2 separate regions of the Homo sapiens genome follow, and region 1 is linked to region 2. The links come from fine-mapping of genetic effects on gene expression. A gene starts in region 2. The other region holds a variant in brackets. All regions are shown on one strand. Distances are from middle to middle.

Region 1 (5,384 bases), 66 kb before region 2:
ACCAGTCTGAAGGCTATTTGGAAGGAGGGTGAAGGTTTGAATGGAAGCAGTGGCAGTGCAGTGAAGGTAAAGGGATGTCTTCCAGATAATTAAGTTAGTAGTATCTATTAGACTTGGTAAGTAATTACATAAGAAAGAGTCAAGGACAAATAACAGGTTCTACTTAGGTGCCTGAGTAAATTATAATTTGAATTAGGGCAGACAAAAAGAGGAAGAACAGATTTGGAAGAAGTGATAAATTCAGATTTGAACATGTTTGAATTCATTCTTTCATTTACACATCTTTATTGAATACCCAGTATGTGCCAGGCAATGTGTTAGGTGCCAAGTGTAAACTGCTTCTGAGATATCCAGGTGATAATGACCAGCAGGCAGTTAGATACAGAAATCTCAAACTAAAAGGAAATGTCTGGCTTATATAGAAATGTAGACATGGAAGTTATCTTCATAAAAATGAGTGCTGAAGCTGTGTTGATAGATGTGATGACCATGGGGAGAAGTGGGTTGATTTGGAAGAGTGCCAGCAATAGAGTAAGAGTGGAAGCACCAACAGTTAAAGGAAGAAGTACTGGGGTTACCACCCTTTTCCTAGTTTTCCTTCTGGCCCAATGACTGAAAAAGAACAGCTTTGAGTGAGGAAGAAATTAAGACAGTAAAGTTACAAAAACCAAGAAAGAAAACAATTTAAGCACCACATTACACAGAAAAATCAAGTTAAGATGAATACTGAAGTAGGCAGAAGAATAAATGTGAGGAGAAATATATAAAATAAAGTAATAAAGAAGGAGAGATTGGAGAAAGATGGGGAGGTTTAACTAATCAAAGTCTTAGAGGAAGCAGAAAGGAATAGAATCCCAAAACTCAGGCAAAAGAAACAGTGAGAAACCATGTGAACTCAGACAGAATAGAAATAAAGACAAACAGTTTTAAAATGTTGACAATGCCTTTCCCTCTTCCCATCCAATAGTGGGACTGAATCTGTACACCAGATAATTACGAAGGTTCCTTCTAGTCTGAACATTCTAGATTTAAGACGAAATAATAATTTGGGAGGCATTTGTCTCTCACCCCTATATTCCTCTAATGGATATGGAATGTACAAAGTTACCTGAGAAAAGTTAAAGACCGGTTGTGTTGTGCCCCATGCGATGACAGATCTGGTGACTTCCTCTGTGCTGAAGAGTTTACAATTTAAATAAACATTGCATGGTGATTGTTTCTCAGATTCTCCACTAATAAAATCTTTCCCATCTGGCACCATCAACAGCACATGCAACAGCAAAGCACTCTCTTTTGTTGTCCCATTTGTCTGATTGACTAAATTATGGGAGGCTGGCGTAGCTACGAAGGTTGAAGGATGTGGTGCTACAGGGCTTGGTGACTTTCGGTTGGGGAGCACCAAGTTCTGTGCTTTCTTTGCAGTTTCCTCATGAATTTGGTTTAAGTTTTGTGGATTTTTGGTACAGGTCATATCTTGGTTAAGTTCTGGTAGTGCCTTATTTGGACTTGTAGGAGCACAAAGTGGGGTATAATGGGTGTTGCCACTTAACTTAGTATTGATACCAGTGAAATCTTTGTTATCTGTAATAAGCTCCATGGTTACCTGTAAAACACAAAAGGAGAAGAGTCAATAAGAATGTCCTTTAGAATTGGAATTAGAATTTTGAGGCTGGAAACAACATCAGATTATTAGGAAATGAATTAACTCATCCTCAAACACTCTAATAGTAAGAATATTAACAGAATGCATATACATTAACTTGCTAGACTAAGAAAAACTAGACAGATGATTTATCAATAACAAAAGATGAGCCTGGAAGATCAAGTTATGCCAGAATATAAGATAGTTCCCAGAAAAGAATGGAGCCATGTTTAAAGGACCCAGAATCCAGCTGAAGAGGCTCCCACTGGCTAAATCTAGGACAACTTAAGCATCAGAATGAATAACAGTAATGGATTATAAACTATTGAATAAGAATCCATGAATCCATCCTGATATAAAATAAATATGAGAGAAGAAACAGCTTCTCTATATAGAATGCCAATTAATAAATGCAAAAGAGACGGTAGAGTTAGAAATCACCATTTGACAATCATCACAGTAATAAGTGATTCAGGTTAACCCCAGTGGAGGAACATTCTTTAAAATAACTGGCATTACTTAAAAATATCAGCATATTGAAAAATAAAGAAAGGCTGCAGAACTGTTCCTGACTAAAGGAGATTAGGAAGATCTGACAAAATGCAATAGATAATCCTGGACTAGAAAAAAATATTTGCTATAAAGGCACTGGTATAATTGGTGAAATCTCAGTATAGCCTGCAGATATAGTATCAATGCTATGCTGACTTTTGTAACTCTAGAGTATTATGCATGATGATGTCCTTGTTCTAAGGAAATACATAAAATATAAACTAAAGAATTTAGGGGGAAAGAGGCATGATGTACAACTTACTCTCAAATAGTTCACAAAAAAATGTGTATGTACATGTATGGGGGGAGGAGATAAAGGGACAGAGAGAGAGAGGCAGAGAAGAGGCAGACAGACAATTATAAAGAAAATGTGACAAATAGTAAGAATTGGGGAGTCTCAGTAAAGGGTATAAAAAAGTCTAAATAATTAAAAAGTAAAAAAGAAAAGGGA[A/T]GCAGGATAAATGATGAATTTAAAGAACAGAAGTGGTCACTAACTGTTAGGAGACTCAATTACTAGGGGTAAAAGGTTCTTGCTGTTTCTTCGATCTGAAATCCTAAGTGTTACATAGCAAGGTTCTTTTACTCTGTTGAATATAGACAGCAATCTATCCAGAATAGTATTTCTCTCAAAAGAGCCAGAACAGAAAAAATTTCTAGTTGATCAATCCTATTTATAACCCCTTTCTGATTTTAAACTTTGTAGTTCAGAATGAACCAGGCAGACAAAAACTATAACTTGGATAGCAAGAGTAGGTGATGTTAATTTTTTGCAATAATAATTGTGTAAGTCTTTAAAGCAAAGTGGTATTTACTAAGACCAAGAAGAGAGACAAGGCTTTCAAGAAGAAAAGGCAGTATGATAATCAATAACAAAAACACAGAGGCATGAACCAGCATGATACCTTACTGACTCTTTACGTAGAGTGACATAGTTATTGGTAGAGAAGCTGTAAGAGAGAAGGTTGAAATGGTAGGCCAGGGTCATATATTAAGCCTTGTACTTTATCCTTTGGGTGATTGGGAGCCATCAGGATGTTTTAGGCATGGCTGTGATGATTTTTTTTTTTCTTTTGAGACAGAGTCTTGCTCTGTCGCCCAGGCTGGAGTGCAATGGTGCAACCTTGGCTCATTGCAACCTCTGCCTCCTGGGTTCAAACGATTTTTGTGTCTCAGCCTCCCGAGTAGCTGGGATTACAGGCGTGTGCCACCACTCCTGGCTAATTTTTGTATTTTTAGTAGACATGTGGTTTAGCCATGTTGCCCAGGCTGGTCTAGAACTCCTGAGCTCCGGCAATCTGCCCGCCTTGGCTTCCCAAAGTGCTGGGATTACAGGCTTGAGCCACTGCACCCGGCTGATTTTTAAAACTCACCAGGACAAAGCTATACTGAAGCCACACGCTCAGATTCTGTCATCTAAGAAATCCTAACTCACCTGAATACAAGGAAATAACCCTCTCTCCAATGAATTATATACCAGAATTCATTCTACCAGGCACACTTAGTTACTGCTCTCCTTCTTTATTTCAATTACTCTAGTCTAAGCCACCATCAATCATCTCTTTTCTGGACTAATGCCACAGCCCATTTCCCTCTTTCCTCTTGCCGTCTATTCTCCACACAGTAATCTTGTAAAATGGAAATCAGATGATGTCAGTCCCATGCTTCAACATTCTTTCCTTGGATCTTAGGCTAAAATCTAAACTCTTTACCTTTACCTACAAAGCTCTGATGATATGGCTTCTACCTGACTGTTCAACCCTACTTTCTACCACTCTCTCTCTTGCTCACTATCCTCTGGCAACTTTCTATCCCTTGATGACTCCAAGCCCACTCCTGCTTTAGGGCTGTTGCACCTGTTATTCTCTCTGGAATGGTCTCTGTGTTTTTTACTTACTCCTCTTATTCTTCAAATCTCACCTTCTATTTCACCTCCATAGAAAGATCCTCCCTGATCACCATCTCCTACTTTCTCACAGGTACTCACTATCACATCATACCATTTATTTCCTTCATAGTACTTCCACTGCTCTATTTCAAGAGATGCTACACAAGATCAAAGACCTTGCTTTTCTTGTTCACTGCTATATCCTCAGTGCCAGCCAATAATGCATACTCAGCAAATACTTCTGACTTCCTGAATGTATATCTACATACCTTGAGGGGGCCAAATGGAGACTGACCATTTTCTTGTTGCACTGGAAGCTGATCACTGAAAGAAAGCAGCTCTGATTGAATGACAGCTCGCAAAGAAAGTGACACAGATCCAATGACTTCTGGCTGAGAAAGAAGGAAAGAGAACATTTAGATTAATTAAAGAGAAGCCACAGGTGATCTTAATTAAAGTGACAACATATGATGGCTTATAAAGGAAACCATTCAGGAAGAAAAAAGCTTAATTATCTAAGACAACTCTGAGATCCCACTTTGTCATATTTTGGTCTCTCTTCTGGCTTTTGCTACTTCCCTCTATAAGATTACAGAGGGTTTTATAAGCCACAAAGTGGTGGGAAGATTATCTTTTTCTATCACTAAGAGTTAATTCTTACTCAAAATGTTCAACTTCACTATTAAAAATAAAAAATAAAATTTAGATGTCACAAATTTTTGCTATTAAAACTAGGGAAATTGTAAAATTTAATATATCTAATGCTATCAAGGCTATGGAGAAACAAGAGGCTGTCATATGCGTAAAGCTGGAAATATAAACTGGCAATATGCTTTTGGATGGCAAATTTGGTAACAGATATTAAAAGCTTTAAATATTTATGCTCTTTGGCCCAGTAATTCCATTTCTGGGAATTTGTACTAAAGAAATAATAAATAGGCTGGGCGCGGTGGCCCATGCCTGTAATCCCAGCACTTTGGGAGGCTGAGGCAGGCAGATCACCTCAGGTCAGGAGTTCAAGACCAGCCTGGCCAACATGGTGAAACCCCCGTCTCTACTAAAAATACAAAAAAATTAGCTGGGCATGGTGGCGGGTGCCTGTAATCCCAGCTACTCAGGAGGCTGAGGCAGGAGAATCGCTCGAACCCAGGAGGCTGAGGTTGCAGTAAGCTGAGACCATGCCATTGCACTCCAGCCTGGGCAACAAGAATGAAACTGTGTCACACACACACACACACACACACACACACAGAAATAAGAAACAATGCATAAAAAGCTTATACACAAATATGTATATGTTAAAAG
Region 2 (5,384 bases):
AATAGCGTAACGTGTAGTTGTTCTCACAGCTTTTGGTTCAGTCTGCAATGCATCCCTGGGACAAAAGAGGGTTCCATCTGATGTTTCTCCCCACCATCTCACTCGGACAAGTACACAAGTGGGAGGCTTTGCAATCTTCCATATGACTCTATTAACAGTAAGTTTTAGAAAACAGCGTAGCTGGCCTTCAACCAGAGGTGGCAGGCTTGTAGATGGAGAAATGTCACTTAAACCTGTAGAGGAATCCAAGAAAACTGAGTCAAAATTTAGACTAAATATAGAAAACATATAATATGCTTTTTGAATGAAAACAAACAGAACACTTTAGTCTTAAGTTCAGCAATTTATCACCACTTAGAAAGAAGGTTTATCCTACCCATTATTCTAATACATGAGAAGTAACTATCAAATCAGACCACCGAATAATCTATCTGGTCATGTAAGCCACTCTGATAACTAATTAGTATTTAAGGTTTGATTTGATTTACTCTAAGTTAAGAACATACCAACAAAGACACACTAATATAAACTTTTCTTTAGTTGAGTTACTATTTGAAAAATACAAATATCAGAAGTAGTTGACATTTTTCTAAGTATGGTTGAAATTTTTCTAAGTACAGTTGTTTTAATTATTGCAACATCTATGGTTTTTAAGATATGTAATCTTTATCTAACTCTCTTTTAAAAAAATCACTAACGATAAAACAGCAACAACTCCCTTCACTCACAAACGATTTAGACTATATCATACAACTCAGCATTTCAATGAAGAACGTCTTAAATTGTAACTTTTCTTTCCTGCCAAGATCACACAGTCAGTGAGGACACAGACTATCTAATCTTCAGATTCTGCCACTATTTTTAACACAGTGCTGGGTTCATATATTTATTGGCTTTAGTATTTATTGGGTTTCATAAAGACATTAAAGTGTAAACAAAGCAATTAATCATGACTTTCTAAAAAATTTTCCTTTAATGACCCTGATTGTCTTTCATTCATAGTACCTTTTCGGGAAAACTTAAAGGAGATTTAAGAAACCATTCCTATATTATTTATACCTTTTTTTTCCTTTGACTTTTCTTTGAGGAGTGGTTATGCCTCAAAGAAGAAAATATATGGAATGTATCAGATCAGGACTAATTATTTGGACTTCTAATGCAAACACCGCCTCTGCCCTCTATAGTGGAGAAAAGACCCACCATAATCCTTATGGATAGTTTCAACATAAAAATTATACACAGTTGTGTATACATTTCTACATATGGAAATGGTATAGCAAAAAGTGTATTCTGTTCTATGCTATGTTATATTATTTCTACTTTGACTTTCCGATTATCAACCAAACATGCTTAACTGTTTTGACACAGGGAGCACTAGTATGCTTCAGTCTCAGATCCTCCTATCTTTCCTGGCAGGAAAGTCAGTATCTCAAAACTGCCTTAGTAATCTTTAAACAGCTTGGATAAGAGTAATTCCCAGATTGTAGCTTCAGTCCTCAACCCAATGGCCTAATGTCCTATCACTGTTCCCAATACTTCTTTTCTCGCTAAACTGCCTACAATGCAAAAAGGCAGGGTCACCCACTGTCCTTTTTCCCTTCGAGGCAGTCTTGTAGAGATTCAATGTCAAGTTTCCTGATCTGCCCTGGGTTCCTAGGTTGACTGTTCTCACTGCAGCTAACATCCCCTACTCGGTGAGCTTGTGTCTCCTTGAGCTGCTAACCTGATGAGGACTCTCTGCTGCACACTCTTTCATGATCTCAGGTCCTTCAGGAGATCGTCATGCCCTTACCCCCACTCCAATCCTATCACACCTGTCATTCCCCACTCTTCCCGGCTCTATACTCTACAATTATTTTTCCCAACTCCTGCTCATAGTCAGCCCTTCATACTTCATTCATTCAACTAACATTTACCGAGTCCTGCTTTGTACTAATCCTTGGTCATTCAGTAATGTATAAAACGTGATTCTTGCCCACAATCACACAACAAATGATATAATCCCTTTGCCAATTTATGTTTCTTCCTGTCCCTGTGGACCTCGAAAGCTACACACACACATACATTTCACTTCGTTATCAAAACCAATCCCATCATTGTTTGTTCTTCTCCTCTACAGTCATCCTACCGGTAACCTTCATCTCATTAATCGCCTGTCTGTGGCCCCTACCCCAGCCCCTAATTCCTTTCTATTCTCTGGAGGGCCAATTGCCCTTCCTTTTAACCTTCTGGTTCCCTGGCTACTTCCTTCTTACGTCCCTTTTCTTGTTTATCCAGCGGGGGTGCGGGTCTCCCTAAAATTCCTTACACCCTGCTCTCCTATTACGCTTTCCTCAATCTTTGATCGCTCAGGTTACCTCTTTTTTTGCGCCCACGGCTGCCCCCAGACCCTTGGCCTTTTCGTTGTTTCATGATGAGCCCGAGCTCTTCTTCACCAGCTCAACTCCGTCTCCAGCACCTAAGCAGTATCCTCCCGCCATCCCTCCCCACGGCGCCTGCGTTCCCCGGCAACCGGCGCCGCTGGGCAGCCTGGGAGGCAGGAAAAAGCGACTCTTCCTCTAACAGTCTCCGGAAAACGGTGCGAAGAGAAGGCGCCAAGACGCCTTCCCTCCAATACACTACAATACCCAGGACGCTTTGCTACAATACCTCTCCGGGGTTGGCTGGGGGGCGCCTCCAGCTGCGCAAGCGCATAGGGATGCGCCCTTTGTGGACTCCATTGCGCAGGGTGCATTGCCCTGAAGAGCGCTCCTCCTTCCGGTGAAAGTCGTCGGGTTCCCAGCCGGGAGTCTGCGGAGTTCTCATACTCTGTTACCCAGCTTCCTTTGTATGAGTGCTGTTGCGCACTTCCGGTGGAAGCGCTGAAGCGAGTGGGTGGAGTTTACGGAGCCGGTGGGCGGTAGGCGGTGCTACGGGTAGCTGGGTGCTGTCCAAAGGCGACAGGGCGTCGTTAGGGGAGCGAGTCGTGACCGGTTGGGCCACACTCAACGTGGGACGAAGCTTCGCCTACTGTTTGACTACGTGCGTGCAGCCTCCCCTCGATGTCGGCCCTCGAAAAGAGCATGCACCTCGGCCGCCTTCCCTCTCGCCCACCTCTACCCGGCAGCGGGGGCAGTCAGAGCGGAGCCAAGATGCGAATGGGGTACGTGACCCATACCCCTTCTCCCTATGGGCCAGGCCCCAGCCGTTGGAGAATGGTATCTCTGGGCGTTCATAGAGGCACGGGAAAGGAGTCTACTGATAGGAGAAAATGTTGGCGGCCTGGAGATATTTAGATGGAGTAGAAGGCAGATTGGGGTACTAGGGGAGGCGCCAAGTCAATAGAAATTGGAGGAAAAATAACGTTGTTGAAGGGAGAGGGGAATGAGGCAAAGGTTGGGGAAGCTGAGAGACTAACATAAGGGATCTGAGAATCACTTCCACAATAAAGGAGGCTTAGAAAAGGGAGTAGAACGGTGACAAAGGTGGAGGAGAATCGGCCAGGGAAGGTGGAGGGAAGTGGGGAATGACTGAGAGAAAAGTTGAGGGGAATTGGGCCAACAACTAAGGAAAGGTTTGGGAGGAGTAGATATTATCAGAGTTCTAATATCTGCACTGTGAGAACTAGATACTAGAAAAGCTGAGGGGGGTAGAAAACACTCGAGACAGGGCTGGAGAAGGAAAGAGGAGAACTAGGAAGCAGACGATTCTAGAGAATTCCCAGAGGTGTAAAGACAGATTCAGCGAATGAGAGGTGAGATTAGGTCTCTTAAGGGAGAATGAGAAAGTTTAGGGAGTAGGCCTAAGGTAAGGTGGAGAACATAGCCACGAAGATTGTTAAGGGTAGTAGGAATGTGCTGAGAAGCTGGACAGGATAAGGGAGAGAGAAGAAGGAGAGGACTGAAGAATTTACAGAGTGAGAAGCTGGACAGGATAAGGGAGAGAGAAGAAGGAGAGAACTGAAGAATTTACAGAGTGACCATAGGCTCTAAAGATTGAGAGATGACTATAAATACGGTTTGGTGAATGGAAGTGCTGCAGTTGTAAGGTCTGGGAAGCTTAGAGGAAGATTTGGGCAATCAGTTTTTGCTGGGCTAGTAGATCTGAGGGAAGCGACGTACTGGCCTAAGACTTTGAATTAGTGAAGCATTGGGAGTTCGAGAAATAGTTTGCTGGAAAGGAAGGAGAGCCATGTAGAAGAGATAGGTTTTGGAATTTTAGATCGTTAAATGGCTTGTGCCAGGTTAGGGGATACTTGGGCCGAGGAGAAAGAATGAGGTGAACATGGGAGAAGTAATTGCTGGAAAGTGGAGAGAATTGAATAGGCATTTGGTTTTGAGGGGATATTTGTAGTTTCAAACAGGATTCTGGGAATTAGTGACTGTAAAGAGAAAAGGAGTAGGAAAGATACTTAGGTATGAGGGCTCCAGAGTATATTTGGGATTCTAGAGATGAATTGGTAGATATTCTTTGAAAAAGGACTACAGAAGAGAAACCTTAGGTTCTGAAGAAGTAATATGTGTAAAAACTTATCAAAAAGGAGGCGAGAGTAGGAGATGCAGTACTGTGACAGTAAGTCCTAGGGATGAAAAGAAAGGAGAATCCTATAAAACAGTGGGGTAAAGGAATGGGAAAAATGGGTGGAAAAACCAGGGAAGGAAACTAAGAATTGAGTGGAGACCTGCTATGATACGCAGTAGAAAAATGAGAAAACTTTAGCAGGAGGAGATAGAGAGATAGACGCACAATAGAGGTAGAAGGCTACATAGAAGGTAAAGTGAAGATTGTTTTGGCTTTGGAAGACAGAAAAGTTGGACTATAACATGAATAAAGAGAATTTGGAAACTGACCCATAACATTATTTGGGAAAACTAACCTGGAGTTTAATATTAATGTAACATTAATTGTTGTTAAATATCTTAGTTGCTGCCTTTCTTAAAATAAATTTGATTTTTCAGTATACCAGCACCCTTCTATACAAATACATAAGAAAATCAGATTTTTAATAATTATACATTCCTTAGATAAGCTTAATTAGAGCTCAGCTTCTCATCTTGGAGAAACAAGTTCTCTGAAGATTGAAGAACTGAATGAAGATACTGAGAGAAAAAAAAAGGAAAATCTGCTGATTAGAAGATTGTATAATTGTTAGTAATTTATCGTTTTTATTTTTTATTACTTTTCATTTTATTTTTTTTTAGAGACAGAGTCTCACTCTGTTGCCCAGGCTAGAGTGCAGTGGCACAATCTCGGCTCACTGCAACTTCCACCTCCCGGGCTCAAGTGATTCTTGTGCCTCAGCCTCCCAAGTAGCTGGGATTACAGGCATGCACCACCACGCCCGGCTAATTTTTGTATTTTTAGTAGAGAGGGGATTTCGCCATGTTGGCCAGGCTGGTCTTAAA

Direction of the effects. Alleles are on the strand shown, and positions count from the first base shown. SD is a standard deviation of normalised expression in the study named.
In carriers of allele A in region 1, the expression in subcutaneous fat of the gene that starts at base 2,909 in region 2 tends to be lower than with T alone (moderate effect, 0.46 SD a copy in GTEx).

The links. PIP is the estimated chance that this variant, and not a neighbour inherited with it, causes the effect.
Region 1: its variant is fine-mapped to the expression of PPME1 in subcutaneous fat (GTEx, PIP above 0.99).

Annotation. Positions count from the first base shown.
Region 1 is chr11:74,102,023-74,107,406 of GRCh38, forward strand. It overlaps C2CD3 (C2 domain containing 3 centriole elongation regulator), which reads right to left. Exons shown (of 33, transcript NM_001286577.2): 13 at 4,349-4,471; 14 at 1,109-1,603. Among named protein-coding and RNA genes, the nearest start is that of C2CD3, 66 kb to the right of the region's middle. The variant A/T (reference allele first, on the strand shown) is at 2,646.
Region 2 is chr11:74,168,381-74,173,764 of GRCh38, forward strand. It overlaps PPME1 (protein phosphatase methylesterase 1), which reads left to right and starts at 2,909. Exons shown (of 14, transcript NM_016147.3): 1 at 2,909-3,142. The coding sequence starts at 3,042. It overlaps C2CD3 (C2 domain containing 3 centriole elongation regulator), which reads right to left and starts at 2,622. Exons shown (of 33, transcript NM_001286577.2): 1 at 2,358-2,622; 2 at 1-233. The coding sequence starts at 2,412. RefSeq lists enhancers at 1,857-2,780, 2,554-3,003, 2,781-3,703.